Regions from separate parts of the Homo sapiens genome. Here region 1 is linked to region 2. The links come from fine-mapping of genetic effects on gene expression. A gene starts in region 2. The other region holds a variant in brackets. All regions are shown on one strand. Distances are between the middles of the regions. Region 1 holds the start of TMBIM4 (transmembrane BAX inhibitor motif containing 4). Region 2 holds the start of IRAK3 (interleukin 1 receptor associated kinase 3).

What was found.
Region 1: its variant is fine-mapped to the expression of IRAK3 in whole blood (TOPMed, PIP above 0.99).

Annotation. Positions count from the first base shown.
Region 1 is chr12:66,163,863-66,172,201 of GRCh38, reverse strand. It overlaps TMBIM4 (transmembrane BAX inhibitor motif containing 4), which reads left to right and starts at 2,206. Exons shown (of 7, transcript NM_016056.4): 1 at 2,206-2,347. The coding sequence starts at 2,251. RefSeq lists enhancers at 2,225-2,304, 1,948-2,472, 2,955-3,054. The variant T/A (reference allele first, on the strand shown) is at 5,006.
Region 2 is chr12:66,185,769-66,194,107 of GRCh38, reverse strand. It overlaps IRAK3 (interleukin 1 receptor associated kinase 3), which reads right to left and starts at 4,894. Exons shown (of 12, transcript NM_007199.3): 1 at 4,676-4,894. The coding sequence starts at 4,808. RefSeq lists silencers at 4,560-4,719, 4,740-4,789.

The DNA of each region.
Region 1 (8,339 bases), 22 kb after region 2:
ATTTGTAACAATTGTTTTTATATTCTGAAAAGGAGCCTTAGGTAGGTTATATGTATAGCAGATATCTTCCCCTACTCTATGGCTTCCTTTTCACTCTCTTATGGTATATTTTGATTACTAGAAATTCCTAATTTTAATATAATTTAATTTGGCAATCTTTTCATTTGAAGTTAAGTGCTATTTTGTATCTGGTTTCAGAAATCTTTGCCTTCCTCCAAATCATATTCTCCTGTATCATTTTCTTTAAGTTTTATTGTTTTTGCCTTTCACATTTATATCCACAATCTATCTGGAATTTATTTTTTTTTGTAACTGGTAAGAGGTAAAGGATCAAACTTTGCTGATGCTGTTTTTAGTCAATACAAAGGTGGGTTCCCAATTTAGCTCCAGTTTGTCCTCTATAATAAATTCCATTATTACGGCGGGGCAGAGAAAGAGGGGATGGCTTCGGGTTAGGATGGGAGAGAAAACGGATTACATTCCCAGTGTCATCTGAAGTAAAACTTTTCTCAGATTTTTCTCAGCAAGCTTTTTAAGTCCTCTCACCTGGAGAGTGACTAAAGAGATAGAGGCCATATCCCATTCACCTATCCATTCAACAAACTAAACTAAAACGAGGGGCCGGACACAGTGGCTAACGCCTGTGATCTCAGCACTTTGGGAGGTCGAGGTAGGGGGATCACTTGAGCCCAAGTTCGAGACCAGCATGGGCAACATGGCGAAATTCCGTCACTACAAAAAATACAAAAAATTACCCGGGGGTGGTCACCTGACCTCAGGAGGTCAAGGCTGCTGTGAGCCGAGATAGAGCCACCGCACTCCAGCCTGGGTGACAGACTGAGACTCTATCTCAAAACAAACCAACAAAAACAAATTAAAATGATATGCTTGTAAAATGTTTGTAAAATCATAAAAGATAAAGTGTTTTTTTGTTTTGTTTTGTTTTTCTTGTCATTGTGGAAGTGACGTTAGTTCTTTTGGCAAAGGCTTCTGAGAACATCAAGTTTAAGGATTTAGTTTAGAATAGACTGTTCCACAACTGTTCTGAATTCCACTTGCTAAGTGTTCGGGTGTTGTGGTTAAGGTGAGGACTGGGCAATGTGGGTAGATCAGAGTAAACTCATCAAAACAATTCCAAGGGACCCTAGGATGACACTACTCTGGGTATGTCTACACCTCTTTATATTGGAATGACAACAATATCATGAATATTCACTCTAATCCATTGTATTTGCCACCATCATCTCTCTCTTACAGTAATACAACTTTATCCCCTTTTCTCTGCCTTTGGTAATGGCCCTCTTCAATGTATTCTACTTCTGGCCTAGGATGATCTGGCCTTTGTTTATCTATCCAGCCTCATTCTTTGCCACCTGTCCCCTACACCAGCTGAGCTTCACCGTCTCCCTCTTTGCAGACGTTGGTCCCTTGAGGCCCAGCCTACATCACTGCTCTTTCTCTGGTTGGCTCCTACTTGCCTTTCAGGATTAAATATTACTTCATTCAGAAAGCCTGGTTTATAGAAAGTGCTCAATAAATGTAGGTATTATTATTATTTTAAAATAATAGAAGTAAAAATGCATCCTCGGTGTGATTATTGAAAAAGTGGATGAATGAGATGGGTATTTGTTGAGTGGATGGGTGACTGGGACATGGGTTCTATCACTTTAGCAACTCTCCAAGGTGAAAGGACTTAAAGTGTGTTCAGGCTGGGCGCGGTGGCTCACGCCTGTAATCTCAGCACTTTGGGAGGCCGAGGCGGGCGGATCACGAGGTCAGCAGATCGAGACCATCCTGGCTAACATGGTGAAACCTCGTCTCTGCTAAAAATATAAAAAAATTAGCCTGGCGTGGTGGCAGGCGCCTGTAATCTCAGCTATTCGGGAGGCTGAGGCAGGAGAACCGCTTGAACCCGGGAGGCGGAGGTTGCGGTGAGCCGAGATCGTGCCATTGCACTCCAGCCTGGGCAACAAGAGTGAAACTCCATCTCAAAAAAAAAAAAAAAAGTGTGTTGAGAAAAGTTTCACTTCAGATGACGCCGGGAATGTAAACCGTTTTCTCTTCCATTCTAACTCGGAGCCATCCCCGCTTTCTCCGCCCAGCTGGAATTTTTGAAGCGAGAAAATCGACTCGCTCGGTGTTCGCCCGCCGACGCCGCACGGCTTGCTGGGGCTGGGCTCTTCCTCGCGGAAGTGGGGAGGAGGCGGTTGCGGTTAGTGGACCGGGACCGGTAGGGGTGCTGTTGCCATCATGGCTGACCCCGACCCCCGGTACCCTCGCTCCTCGATCGAGGACGACTTCAACTATGGCAGCAGCGTGGCCTCCGCCACCGTGCACATCCGAATGGGTACGTTGTCCCCTCTCCAGTGCCTCCCAGCCGCTTGTCTGCACTGCTCGGCCTCTAGAAGCCGACTTCCGGCTTCCGAGGGAGAGCGGCCATCTCCTGGGACTCACAGGGAGTGCTCACTGAGCTCCCGGCCCTCCTTCTCCGGGTACCAGAGGACTGGCGCCCTCCTCAGGGAGTCGGGGAGGCGCTTCCTCCCCTCCTAGCGGGTGTGGGAGGGCGCCAGGCCCAGAAGGCTTGCGGCTGTCCTGTGTGCGCCCCGGCTCCCCAGCGGGCGCCGCGGTGTAGGAAGGGACAGATGGAAACCGCCGCAGCCTGAATTTGGCATCTTGAAGTGAAAAGAAACGTCGTGGAAATGAGTCGGTTGATCACTGTGACTGACGTACACACGAGTGGAATCCACGGCCTGATGTTTTTGTTCTGTGGGGTTTCGCGTTACAGGCTTATATTTACCGTCCTGTGCTAGGCTGGAAGCTCCCTGACGGCACTATTTCCTCTCCGCAGGGCCCAGAATGCAACAGGTCTTTGAGGATTATTGAGGAAGTTGCTCAACACAGAAGCTTCCTAAGTCAGTCTAAATTGTGTTTTAAGTTATTACGTAGTAGCCAATGGGCAGAAATTTTTGAATTTAAAATGCTCAGCTTCATCTACGTGGAAGCCATTGCCTGCTCTAGTTTGGTCATTTGATCGCCGAAACAGCCCCAGACTTTCAGCCTGTTTAGGCAGCTGGAACTTGTTCTGGAAAAGGAAAGATGAAGATAGTTCTGATGTGCTAAGAATCTTAGTGCCTAGAACTTGTTCTGGAAAAGGAAAGATGAAGATAGTTCTGATGCACCAAGAATCTTGGTGCCTAGCATTTATATTTTTGGAATTGAATTTTGAAATTATTTTGGCCAGTGAACTCAGCTTTTTTTTAAAAAAAATTAATTGTGGTAAAATACAGGTAACATAAAATTTACCGTCTTAACTATTTTTAAGTGTATAGTTCAGTAGTGTTAAGTTATTCACATGGTTGTGCACTGTTAAAAGAAAAACTTTAGACACATTAAATCTAACGGAGTTTGAGCACAGAATGATTTGCGAATTGGGCAGGTCCCGGAACCAGAATAAGGTTCAGAGTGATGAGTCCTGCCGCTTGGTGGGAGAAAATTTATGGAGAGAGAAAGTAAAGTGAGGTACAGAAAATAGAAGTGAGGTACAGAAAGAGTTGATTGGTTACAGCTTGGTTTTTGCCCGTTTGAACATGGTTTGAACACGTGGCCATCTTTGGCTGAAACTCAGTGATTGGTTCAAGCGTAGGTTACAGCCTGTTTACTAGGTTATAGTTCACTATATACCGAGAACCCCTAGGCTGAACTTAAAATATCTAAAGGCATAGCTTTAGACTAAACTTATATACCATCCAATATCCAGAACTTTTTAATCTTGCAAAACTGAAACTCTATACCTATTAACTCCCCATTCCTTCCTTCCCCCAGTCCCTGGAACCACCATTTCACTTTCTCTCTCTGTGAATTTGGCTACTCTAGATACAATCAGTATTTGTTTTTTTGTGGTTGGCTTTTTTCAATTAGCATAATGTCTTCAAATACATCCATGTTGTGGCATATGTCAGAATTTCCTTTTTTTTTTTTTTTGAGACAGGGTCTCGCTTTGCCACCGAGGCTGGAGTGCAGTGGTGAGATCACTGCTCACTGCAGCCTCTACCTTCTGGGCTCAGGTGATCCTCCCGCCTCAGCCTCTCGAGTAGTTGGGATTACAAATGCAGGTCACCAGGCCTGGCTAATTTTTTTGTACTTTTGGTAGAGACGGGTTTCTCCATGTTGCCCCATCCGATCTTGAACTCCTGGACTCAAGCGATCCTCCCACCTCAGCCTCCCAAAGTCCTGGGATTACAGGCATGAGCCACTGCACCTGGCTGCAGAATTTCCTTTTTAAGACAGTAGTAGTACTTTGTATGTATATACCAAATTTTGTTTATTCATCCATTGATGGACATTTGTGTTGCTTCTACCTCTTGACTACTTTGAATAGTGCTGTCATGAATATAGGTGTGCACATACCTCTTCAAGACCGTGCTTTAATTCTTTTGAATATATACCCAGAAGTGGAATTGCTGGATTGTGTGGTAGTTCTATTTTTAATTATTTAAGGAACGGCCATACTGTTTTTGATAGGGGCTACATCATTTTACATTCTCAGCAACAGTGCACAAGGGTTCACCTTTTTCTACATCCTTGCCAACACATTCCGTTCTTTTCTTTCTTTTTAAAATGAAAATAGCCATCAAATGAGTGTGAGGTGGTATGTCCTTTTGGTTTTGATTTGCATTTCTCTAATGATTTAATGATGTTGCACATTTTAAAAGTATGCGTGTGGGGCATTTATACATTTTCCTTGGAGAAATGTTATTCAAGTCCTTTGCCCAATTAATTTTTTAAAAGCAATTTTAGGTTCATAGCAAAATTTAGCAGAAAGAACAGAGTTCTTATATACCCTTTCTGCTTTTCCCCAAGCCTCTTGCACTAATAACGTTCTGTACCAGAGTGGTATGTTTGTTACAATCAGTGAACCTAGACTGGACACCTCATTATCACCCAAGACCAAGGTTTACGTTAAGGTTCGCTCTTAGTGTTGTATATTCTATGAGTTTGACAAATG[T/A]TTAATGACATGTATCCACCATGATAGTATCATACAGAATAGTTTCACTGCCTTCCTCTGTGCTCTGCCTGTTCATCCCTCCCTTCCTGCTGATCTTCTATTGTCTCCATAGTTTTGTCTTTTCCCAAATGCTGTATAGTTGGAATTATCATGTAACCTTTCAAATTGGCCTTTTTCACTTATAATATGCGTTTAAGGTTTTCTACATGTCTTTGCATGGCTTGATAGCTCATTTTTCTTTAGTGCTGAATACTATTCCATTGTTTGGATGCATTACAGTTTATTCATTCACCTACTGAAGGAAATCTTGCCTGCTTCCAAGTTTTGTCAATAAAGCTGCTTTGTAAACATCCATGTGCAGGTTTTTGTGTGGACATAAGTTTTCAACTCATTTGGGTAAATACCAAGCAGCACAATTGCCGTGTTGTATAGTAAGAGAATGTTTAGTTTCATAAGACATCACCAAGCTGTCTTACAAAGTGGCTGTACTATTTTGCACTTCCACCAGCAATGAATGAGAGTTCTTGTTGGTTCCACATACTCGTCAGCATTTGATGATATCAGTGTTTTAGATTTTGACCATTTAATAGGTGTGTAGTGGCATCTCCTTGTTGCTTTAACTTGTAATTCTCTAATGACTTATAATGTTGAGCATCTTTTCATATACTTATTTGCCATTTGTGTTTCTTCTTCCTTTTTCTTTTTCTTTTTCTTTTTTTTTTTTTTTTTTTTGAGACAAAGTATCACTCTGTCTCTCAGACTGGAGTGCAGTGGTACAGTCACAACTCACTGCAGCCTCAATGTCCCAGGCTCAAGTGATCCTCCCATCTCGGCCTCCTGAGTAGCTGGAACTACAGGCACATGCCACCATGCCTAGCTAATTTTTTATATTTTTAGAAGAGACAGGTTTCGTCATGTTAGTCAGGCTGGTCTCAAACTCGTGGGCTCAAGTGATCCACCCACCTTGGCCTCCGAAAGTGCCGGGATTACAGGCATAAGCCACTGTGCCCAGCCAATCAAATGAGAAAAGGGCAGTCTCTTCAACAAATGGTGTTGGGAAAATTGAATATCCACATTCAAAAGAATGAAATTAGATGCTTACCTTAAACTGTATACAAAAATTACCTCAAAAAAGATCGAAGTCCTAAATGTAAGACCTAAAACTATAAAACTCTTAGATAAAAACATAGGAGGACATTGGATTTGGCAATGGATTTCTTGGGCGTGACACCAAAAACAGGCAACAGAAGTAAAAATAGATGGATGACATCAAAATTTAAAACTTCTGTGTATCAAAGAACACATTCAACAGAGTGAAAAGGCCCATAAAATGGGTGAAAATATTTGCAAATGATATATCCTGTAAGAGGCTAATATCCAGAATACATAAGGAAATCCTACCATTCAATAACAAAAAACAACCTGATTTTAAAGTGAAGAAGTCAAGAAAATAAGATAGACTACATACTGGGAGAAAATATTTGCAAAAGATATATCTAATAAAGGACTGTTATCCAAAATATACAAAAGAACTCTAAACGATAAGAAGACAAATAGCCTGAATAAAATACAGCAAAAGACTTGAACACATACCCCACTAAAGAAGATTCACAAGGTTGGGTGCAGTGGTTCACGCCTGTAATCCTAACACTTTTGGAGGCCAAGGTGGGAGAATCACTTGAGCCTGGGAGGTCGAGGCTGCAGCAAGCTGTGATTGTGCCACTGCACTCCAGCCTAGGCAACAGAGGGAGACCGTGTCTGAAAAAAAAAAAAAAAAGGATCATATATACCAGGATTTATTATTGGAGCTCTGTTGTATTCCATTGGTCTGTATGTCTCTGTCTTTATGTTAGTACCACACTGTTTTGATTACTGTGGCTTTGTAATAAGTTTTGAAATCAGGAATGTGAGATCTCCAACTTTGTTGTTTTTTTTAGATATTGTTTTGGCAATTTGGGGTCCCCTGACATTCCATATACATTTTAGAATGGATTTTCTATTTCTGTGAAAGATGCCATTGGGATTTTGATAGGGATTGCATTAAATCTACCCAAAGTAGGTTACTTTGGGTAGTATGAACATCGGTTTTCCAATGTATAATGATGGATGTGTTTCCATTTATTTTTGTCTTTAATTTCTTTCATCAGTGTTTTGTAGTTTTCAAATTTGTCTTCTTGGTTAGGTTTATTCCTAAGCATTTTATTCCTTTTGATGCTGTTGTAAATGGAATTGTTTTCTTAACTTTCTTTCCAACCTTCTCATTGTTAGTGTATAAAAATGTAACTAATTTTGCATTTTAATTTTGTATCTTGAATCTTTGCTGAATTCATTTATTCTAACAGTTTATGGAATCTTTAGGGTTTTCTACATGTAAGGTCATGTTTGTGAACAGAGATAATTTTACTCCTTTCTTTCCAATATGGATGCCTTTTATTTCTTTTTCTTGCCCAATTGTTCTGGCGAGGACTTCCTGTACTATGTTGAATAGAAATGGCAAAAGCAAACGTCCTTGTCTTATTCCTGATCTTAGATGAAAAGTTTTCAGCTTTTCACCACTGAGTAAGACATTAGTGCTGGGCTTTTCATATATGGCTGTGGAGGCCAAAGTAATTCCATCTTGGTTGCTAATCTGCCTTGTTGACTTCTGACTAACCCCAGTTCCAGGAAACCCTCTAAGATTTCCAATTTATCTGTGGTTCCTTGTATAAGAGCATGTACTTACCATAAATCCTGTCCTTAGGTCAAAACAACCTTGATGTTGTCTTCCTTCAGTTGTCCTACAATCCCTTCTGAATCACCCTTTCCCTCTGGTATATAAGCCCTAGGTCAGGGGATTTATGGCCCGTAGATCCACTATCTTTTCTCTGCCTGAGACAGAGACACAGAGATGGCTTCTGTTCTTATGTCCCTATTAAATGTTTTTTTCTAAGAAAATGGATTTGCCAGCCTCTCAGCTTTCTTGGAATTTGGGGGTCGGTTTGCATAGAACTACTACCGTGGAAAAATGGCCTTTAATATGTTGAGGTAGTTTCTTTCAATTCCTACTTTATTGAGTGTTTTTATCATGAAGGTTGTGGAATTTTGTCAAAAGCTTTTTCTGCATCAGTTGAGATGATCATGTTTCTTTTTCCCCCAACATTCTGTAAATGTGCTGATTACATTGATTAATTTTCATGTATTGAACCATCCTCACAGTCCAGGAATACTGGTTGGTGGTGATCTATAATCCTTTTAATGTGCTGTTGAATTCTGTTTGCTAGTATTTTGTCGAGGATTTTCACATCAGTACTCATCAGGGACATTGCTCTGCAGTTTTCTTGTAGTGTCTTTGGCT
Region 2 (8,339 bases):
CCATACAAAAACTTCGCCAGGTGTGGTGGCATGTGCCTGCAGTCCCAGCTATTTGGGAGTCTGAGGTGGGAAGGATCACTTGAGCCTGGGAGGTCGAGGCTGCAGTGAGTTGTGATTGTGCCACTGCACTTCACCCTGGATGACAGAGTGAGATCCCGTCTCCAAAACAACAACAGCAACACAAAAAAAGCAGGCTCTACTGCATATGGTGACTTCCTTCCAAAAAGTAAGAAACAGAAAGAGAGGGAAGTGAAGTAATTTTACAGGGCAGATATCTGACAGATGCCATCTCAGCCATGGTTAACATAAGCAGTGATAACTCCTGTAAATAGTACCGACCCTGGATACAGGTCAGTACTTTATGGTTTTCCTCCCCCAAATCCATAACCTCAGTCTGATCATGAGAAAAACATCAGACAAATCGCAGTTGAGGAACAGTCTACAAAATAGTGGATAAGTTCCAACCAATACTCCTCAAAACGAGGAAAGTCTGAGAAACCATCACAGCCAAGAAGAGCCAGAGGATACGACAAATAAATGTAATGTGGTATCCTGAATGGGATCCTGGAACAGAGAAAGGACATCGGGTAAAAGCAAAGGAAGTCTGAATAAAGCATGGACTTTAGTTAATAATAATGTGTCAATATTGTAATGAATGCAGCACACTCATGCAAGATGTTAATAATGGGAAACTGGGTGCGGAGTGTACTAAGGATGTAGAGTATCTGGGAACTCTTCCTACTATCTGCTAAACTTTTCCATAAATTTAAAACTGTTCTTAAAAAAATACATCTAGGCCAGGCGCGGTGGCTCACGCCTGTAATCCCAGCACTTTAGGAGGCTGAGGCAGGCAGATCACCTGAGGTCGGGAGTTCGAGACCAGCCTGACCAACATGGAGAAACCCTGTCTCTACTAAAAATACAAAAAAAAATTAAGCCGGGCATGGTGGTGCATGCCTGTAATCCCAGCTACTCGGGAGGCTGAGATAGGAGAATCATTTGAACCCGGGAGGCGGAGGTTGCGGTAAACTGAGATTGCGCCATTGCACTCCAGCCTAGGCAACAAGAGCGAAACTCCATCTCAAAAAAAAGATAATAATAACATAAAAAAACACATCTATTTAAAATTTAGAAAGAAAAGAAAAGAAAAAAAGAACATAGAATATGCAGTCTGATCATCTGGTTAGAATCTTAGTGTGCCATTTAGAAGACTGTGACTCAAGGCAAGTTACTTAAATTCTCTGAGAATCAGTTCACCTATCTATAAAATGGAAATAGGAAGAGTGTCTACCTGATAGAATTGTTGTAATAAGTAAATGAGATAATCCATGTAAAATGCTTACCACAATGGCCAATAGTAAGCCTTGACAGGAGGTAGCTTTATTATTATTACTACTATTATTTTGAATCTTTATTGAATATACAAATGCACACTTAATGTGATTTTACATTTAATTTTTAAAGTAATTATTAATGATTTATATAATAATTTCCCTTTTCTTTCTTGAGAGGAAGAAAATTGAATACAGCCTATTATATATCATTTGCAAAAAGCGTTTCTCAGTACATCGTAAGTGTTGAGAGGTTTTTACGGTGTCAGCTGCTCCAAATAATTTAATTTAAATACCAATCTATGGTAATGTAATCAGATGAGTTGTCTCCAGAGGTTCTGTATGTACTACGTTATCATGTCTGTAACGTAAACAACATATTTCATTTGGGCTTTTGGGCTCTTGCTTTCACTAAAAGCCATAAAGTCATCAATGATAACCACAGAATATATTATCTTGTGATTACATTATTTTTAATAACAATACTTGACAAAAGTGATTTGAAGAGTACTATGTAGAATATGTTTAAAAATAAAAGTAATTAAATGAAGTAATGAAAGAATGTAGTAAAATATCTGTTATATGAAGACACTATTAAAAAAGAGAATTTGGCCTAAGCAATGGCTTACCAATCAGGTTGTGCCTCAGACTCACTCCTGGGGCTTGACAAAAAATGAAAGAAGCTGGACCCTCAACCCAGACTTCCTGAATCAGCAGCTCTAGGAGTGGGACCTGCATCTGTGTATTTAAAAGACTGCATAGGTGATTTGTGTTTGTGAATGACTGGCTTACCTTATCCTGCACACACTGGTCATATCATATAGGCTGCTATATGAGCTGCCTTTGTAAACATAACCTGACACTCACCGTCATCAAGAATCACGATCGGCTCGAGAGAGCTTTACTTAGTATATTACAGTTGTTTTCTACATTTAAGCTTGGGCTGTCAGCTGTCCTGAGCATACAAAGGACTGCCTCTTTGATTCAGTCCTCTGTCACTCTCCTTCCCCTCTCGAAGGTCAAGTTTTCCCTACCTGCACCTCTTCCCCTCTTTCTCCCTTCGCTGTGCCCACAGGAAAACTCGGCATGTTTAGCACAGGCAGTTGCCTCAACACCCTGAACTGGGCTAGCCTTGCCTTCTTGCTGAGCCAAGAACTTGTGCAGCACCTGGTCAGGGCCAGCTCAGTAGTCCAGGCAGTCAGTAGGCATGACCACCTGCACAATGAATTACAGCTGAAGTATCATGGAGTAAACATTTTAGACCCTTTCCCTGTGAGAGAATGAATACACAAAGGGACAATGGCCAGCTTATATATAAAAATAGAACTCTGCAGGCAATGTACATCAACCAGTCCAAGAAACCAACCTACCGTCTACAGTATCTAACAAGTTAAACTATCAGTAACTGGGTTAAACTGTAGCAACTAGCCCAGGCAGCCAAACAAGAACCCCTGTAGCAACCTGTCTCAAATGGCCAGGACTTGAATAATTACTGACCACTTCCTCAATTTTTGCTCCTACTTCCAACTTAGGGCCAACCAGAGAAAGCCAATTATGTACCCCTAAACAAACACACAAAATACCCCCTTTTAGGTAGCTCAACTACAGCTTCCCCATATCAACAGCCTCCAATCAGGACACAGCTGAAGCCTTCTTCTCCCACCCTCCTCCATCCTCTGTCTGCTTTTGAGTCTCTGCCAAACACAAGCAATGGTGCTGGCTCCCTTGCTTTGAAAAAAATAGCTTTTGTTTGTTCTCATTTGGGTGGTCCTCATTCATTTTCACCACTAGGAAAATAGGGCTGCATGCTTGAAATGGATCACTGAATTGTTCTTTGATGCCAGAAATGTCTGTACTTTAGGGAGGCTGTTAGATGTGGCCAGAAAGAACACAGCAGTAAGGGGAGAAGTGTAGAGTAGCTGGGGTTAAGGACATAAGCCTTGGATCCAGACTACCATGGTTCAGATCCTGGCTCTTCCATTTCCAGCTGGTGAACCTGAACAAGTTACTTAACCAATTTGTACCAGTTTCCTGACCTGTTAAAAAAACACTGGCGATGATAATGACTCACAGAGTAATTGGAGAAGTTATATGAGACAAGCCATGTAAAGCATGAATATCTGGATTTCAATGCTATCAACAGAAAGAGAGAGAATAATCTGCCTCACTAATTTACCACACCCACCTGGCCCCATTCACCAACATTAAACTGGACTAAAAACACTTTTCTTTCTCAAAGTCAGTAACTCTAGGAAATCAACGGGTATAAATACTGTCCACGCCAAAATCCATCTCAAAAAGATCTGATGGGGAAGTGACCTTATCCCTCAAAATCCCTCAAATGCACACTGGAAATCTCGTTTTCTAGAAATCAGACTTTTTTTTTTTTCTTAAGGGCCATAACTTAAAATTACAGAGCTTAAAATATATAAACATTTTTTGTATAACCAGAAGCCCATTGCTACAATTCAAAGACTGTCACCATACTGTTCATCAGTAACAAAGAAAACTCTCCTCTTAGGCCTTCTGCTAGTCCTGGTAAGAAAAATCCTATTTCAGACCATTAAAGCTAAGTTATTTTGACATAATCATGATTCTTTTCAATAAACATTAAACATGACATTGTGGAATATCAAATCTAACCAAAAATGCCTGTACTTAACAAAACGAAGATTTTTGTCCGAATTATCTCTGGCTACACTCAACACTTCCAGCAGGCAGTTGCTCAACTTTCCAATGTCTGCATAAAATACAGTTCTGAAGCCAATTTTTTTAGATTAAAATAAAAAGCCACCCTTTAGCATAAACCTTCATTCAACGAAATTGGGTAAATAAGATTTAATTAAGAAAATTAGGAGCCGCGTTCATTGCAAACCGTAGTTTACTTTAGCATTTCACTTGTAATTAAGTTAGGGGCTTAGGGATGCATTGAAAACACCAAAGGATAAGTATCTCAAAGTTCTAAAAATGTCTCAATACTAAAATGATGTTCTGGGGTGATTTTGCAAGGACCAGAAGACATCATACATTGCGAACCCAGTGAGGGTGGCATCGCGGACGAACAGAAGATGCTTTCACGCTGGTTATCTGTCTTTCCCAGGCCTCGGCTCCCTTGACTTTGCAGCGATACCCAAAATTCTTTGAAAGAGAAGGGAGGGAAGGCATCTGGGTCCCAGGGAGTCTCTGCATCCAACCCAGGAAAGGAGGGGGCCGGCTCCCTGGCGGGAACTTCCCGGAGGCCGCGCCAGCCCCGCGAGGGACCCCAGCCATGCAGGGCGACGCCGAGCGGGCCCCGCGGCGCGCTGGGCTCCCCCGCCGCCCCCGGCCGGTCCCCGCCGACTCACCCAGGCCGCGCCAGCCCAGCGCGCCGTCGCAGCTGTCCAGAACAGCGCAGAGCTCTCCGAGCAGCGCGGGCGGCAGGTCGAACAGCAGCGTGTGCGCCGACAGCGCGCCGCGGGCCCCACAGTTCCCCGCCATGGCTCGGCTGCCCGAGCCCCGGGGACGAGGCGGAGTCCAGGTCCCTGCACGCCTGCGACAGGCCGTTACACAACCGCGGAAATCCTGCTTCCACGACGGCAGCAGAGCCCTAGGAACACGCCGTTCTCCGGTCACTGCAGGGGCGGTGCCCACGTGACGCAAGGCGCGCCTCGCCCGAGATGCCCCTGCGTCCGCCTGGCCAGGCCTGGGGGTTACCCGACCCGGGTTCTCCCTTCGCTGGCTTTGCGCCCCTTCACACCTCTGCGGTGGGGACGGAGCTGCCGAGACAAGCAGAGTGCGAACTGGAGAAAGCCCAGAGCTCAGAGCTCCCAGGAGCCCACCGTGCCCCACGGCTAGGCGGTCTCCTGGTGTGGACGGCTAGCGGTGTCATTACTTCTTACAAAAGTTTATTTTTGAAAGCTTCTCCCTTCCTTCCTTCTTCCCTTCCTTTCTTTTCTTCCTTTTTTCTTTGTTTTGAGTCAGGTTCTCACTCTGTCGCCCAGGCAGGAGCGCAGTGGCGCTATCTCAGCTCACGGAGCCTCCACCTATTGGGCTCAAGCGATCCTCCCACCTCAGCCTCCCGAGTAGCTGGGACCACAGTCGCACGCCACCACGTCCGGCTAATTATTTTTTTTCGTTTTTCGTAGAGAGGGAGTGTCGTTATGCTGCCCAGGCTGGTTTCAAACTCCTGGCCTCAAGCGATCCTCCCACCTCCGGCTTCCCAAAGTGCTGGGATTCGGGGTGTTAGCCACTGTCCCGGACTACTTCTTTTTTATCCTGTCAGAAAAACTATCCATGTTCATCGAGGAACACTTGGAAAACCCAGAAAAAAACTGAAAAAAGAAGATAATCACTCACAACCCCACTCAGCCCATCACACTCTAAAAGTTTTGACACATTTTCCTCCCAACTTTTACTGAATTTAAACAGATAAAAATGTACATATATGGGATTATTATTGGAAAAGATGAATGTAGATACCAACAAGAGAAAAACAGAAAAGACACCAAATCAGCGTAAAATTATGTTCGTTTTCTTCACGAGGCGGCCTCTCCTCCATACACCTACTTGGTTTTAATAAATTTTCTTCCTCATGGGCTTCCTTGATGAAATATCGTTCCATCATTTTTTCCTTCCTCAAAGTGCTTCACACAATCTTCCTTTTTGCCTTCAACATGGAGTTTAAGTAAAATTGTTGTTTTGAAATCTTCACGGAGTTTAAGTAAAATTGTTGTTTCAAAATCTTCTAGGTCACATGAGGCATGTTACCAGTGACAAAAAGTTGTTTTGAAAGTGGTGAGAAAAATCTCAGCCTTAGTGACTGGAAGAGTGGGCAGTGGCCATCAAGTGAAAACACCAGAGGTGTTTTGAAACCTCTCAGATTGTAGTCTTTGGAATAGCTGCCCCTAGAGATCACGAGTGATGAAACACTATCATTTCATGCCCCTACCTGAATGGTTTTGCCAGCGAAAATACTTCATAAAAATGTATCTGAAAACTGGCAAAGCCCATACTGTGTGGGCAAGAATTTCGATATCCCGTTGTTCAAGGTTTTATTGTCAATCTGTACACACTGTACACCTACCTACCTTCCTTCCTTCCTTCCTTCCTTCCCTCCTTTCTTCCTTCCTTCCCTCCTTTCTTTCTTATTTGTTTTTTTTAGTCGCTCTGATTGCCCAGGTTGGGGTGCAATGGTGCGATCTCGGCTCACTGCAACTTCCACCCCCTGGGCTCAAGCCATCCTCCCACCTCAGCCTCCAGTACAGCTGGGACTACAGGTGCATGCCACCATGCCTGGCTAACCTTTGTAGTTTTTGTAGAGACGGGGTTTTCCCATGTTGCTCAATCTGGTCTCAAACTCCTGGGCTCAAGTGATCCACCTCCCTAGGCCTCCCAAGGTTCTGGGATTACAGGCATGAGCCACCACACCCGGCCCTCTATACATCTCTTAAAGGGACTACCTGAACATGCTGAGCAACAGAGGCAAAAGGCCATTAATTATTTGGTAGCTTTTGAATTGCTACTACAGGGAGGCAAACTCACTCAGAGGAAACAGGAAATCACTGCAGATGAGGGAAGCAATCAGAAAGGCCTGCTTTACCAGATCTTGTAATTTACCAAGAAGCAAGGATCCTAAGTGAAAGCTAGAGTATGTGAAATTTCCTGTATTTTCAGTGTTGGCAGTCGTTCTCAGACCATGTTGCCTTCCTATTCCTAAAACTGTCTTGAGTTTTGATTTTTATATCATCAGGTTGTATCATCATGGTTGCTATCAACTGCTGATCTCCCCGACTCCAATTCCTTCTCCTCGTTTTTAGACTCTCTAGCTCCTGGCTCATTGTTGCTCTCTCCAGTACTAATCCTATCTTAGTTCTCAGTGATTTAAAATATATGTAGAATAACTATTCACAATAGCAAAGACATGGAATCAAGCCAAATGCCCATCAATGATAGACTGGATAAAGAAAACGTGGTATGTATACACCATGGAATACTATGCAGCCATAAAAAGGAATGAGATCATGTCCTTTGCAGGGATAGGGATAGAGCTGGAGGCCATTATCCTCAGCAAACTAACACAGGAACAGAAAATCAAATACTGCATGTTCTCACTTATAAGTGGGAGCTGAACCATGAGAACACATGGACACTTGGTGGGGAACAATGCATACTGGGGCCTGTCAGGGGAGGGGGTAGGGGGAGGCAGTGAATCAGAAGCAATAGCTAATAGATGCTGGGCTTAATACCTAGGTGGTGGGATCATCTGTGCAGCAAACCACAATGGCACATATTTACCTATGTAACAAACTGCACATCCTGCACATGTACCCTAGAACTTAAAATAAAAGTTGATGAAACAAAATTAAAACATACACACACACACACACACACACACACATATATATATATATATATGTAGAATAGATGGTGATCTTTCCAATGCCCTGGCCTCTCATTTCCTTGACTCCTCTTCTCTGGTGACATTGTACTCCACCCAATGCTCCATTTCAGACACTTACTCCCATGAGCGTCCCCTAGAATTTGTCATTATCAATAGCTGCATCCCATCTATAATTTCTTTCATGAATCCACTCTCTGATCATACCTCCTGTCTTTCTAGCACATTCCCTCTAGTACTCTGACCCCAACAATCCTGTCCCTTCACCAGATATCCAATCCAAAATCTTGCTGCCTCTTTTCTGGCTCCACCCTCTTGACATCCTGACTTTTCTGCTTATCCATTAAGTCTGTGGTCAATTATTTTATTCACTCCTTTGCATATGCTCTACATTCCCTTGCTCCTCTCTCACTTTGTTGAGCTCTCTTGGCAAGTTTGCAATTCTGATTAAATCCAATTTTCTAAGTTGGCTCCACACCCATGCACCTGAGTGTAGCTGGGGAACGGGGTGGAAAACCAAAATCCTGTTAATTGAACTCAATTTAAAATCAAGGCCAAGACTCTCAAGTGGGTCCTTTATGCCACTGGACAAGCATACTATGCACCTTTAGCCCATGCATTCTTCTGGTCTC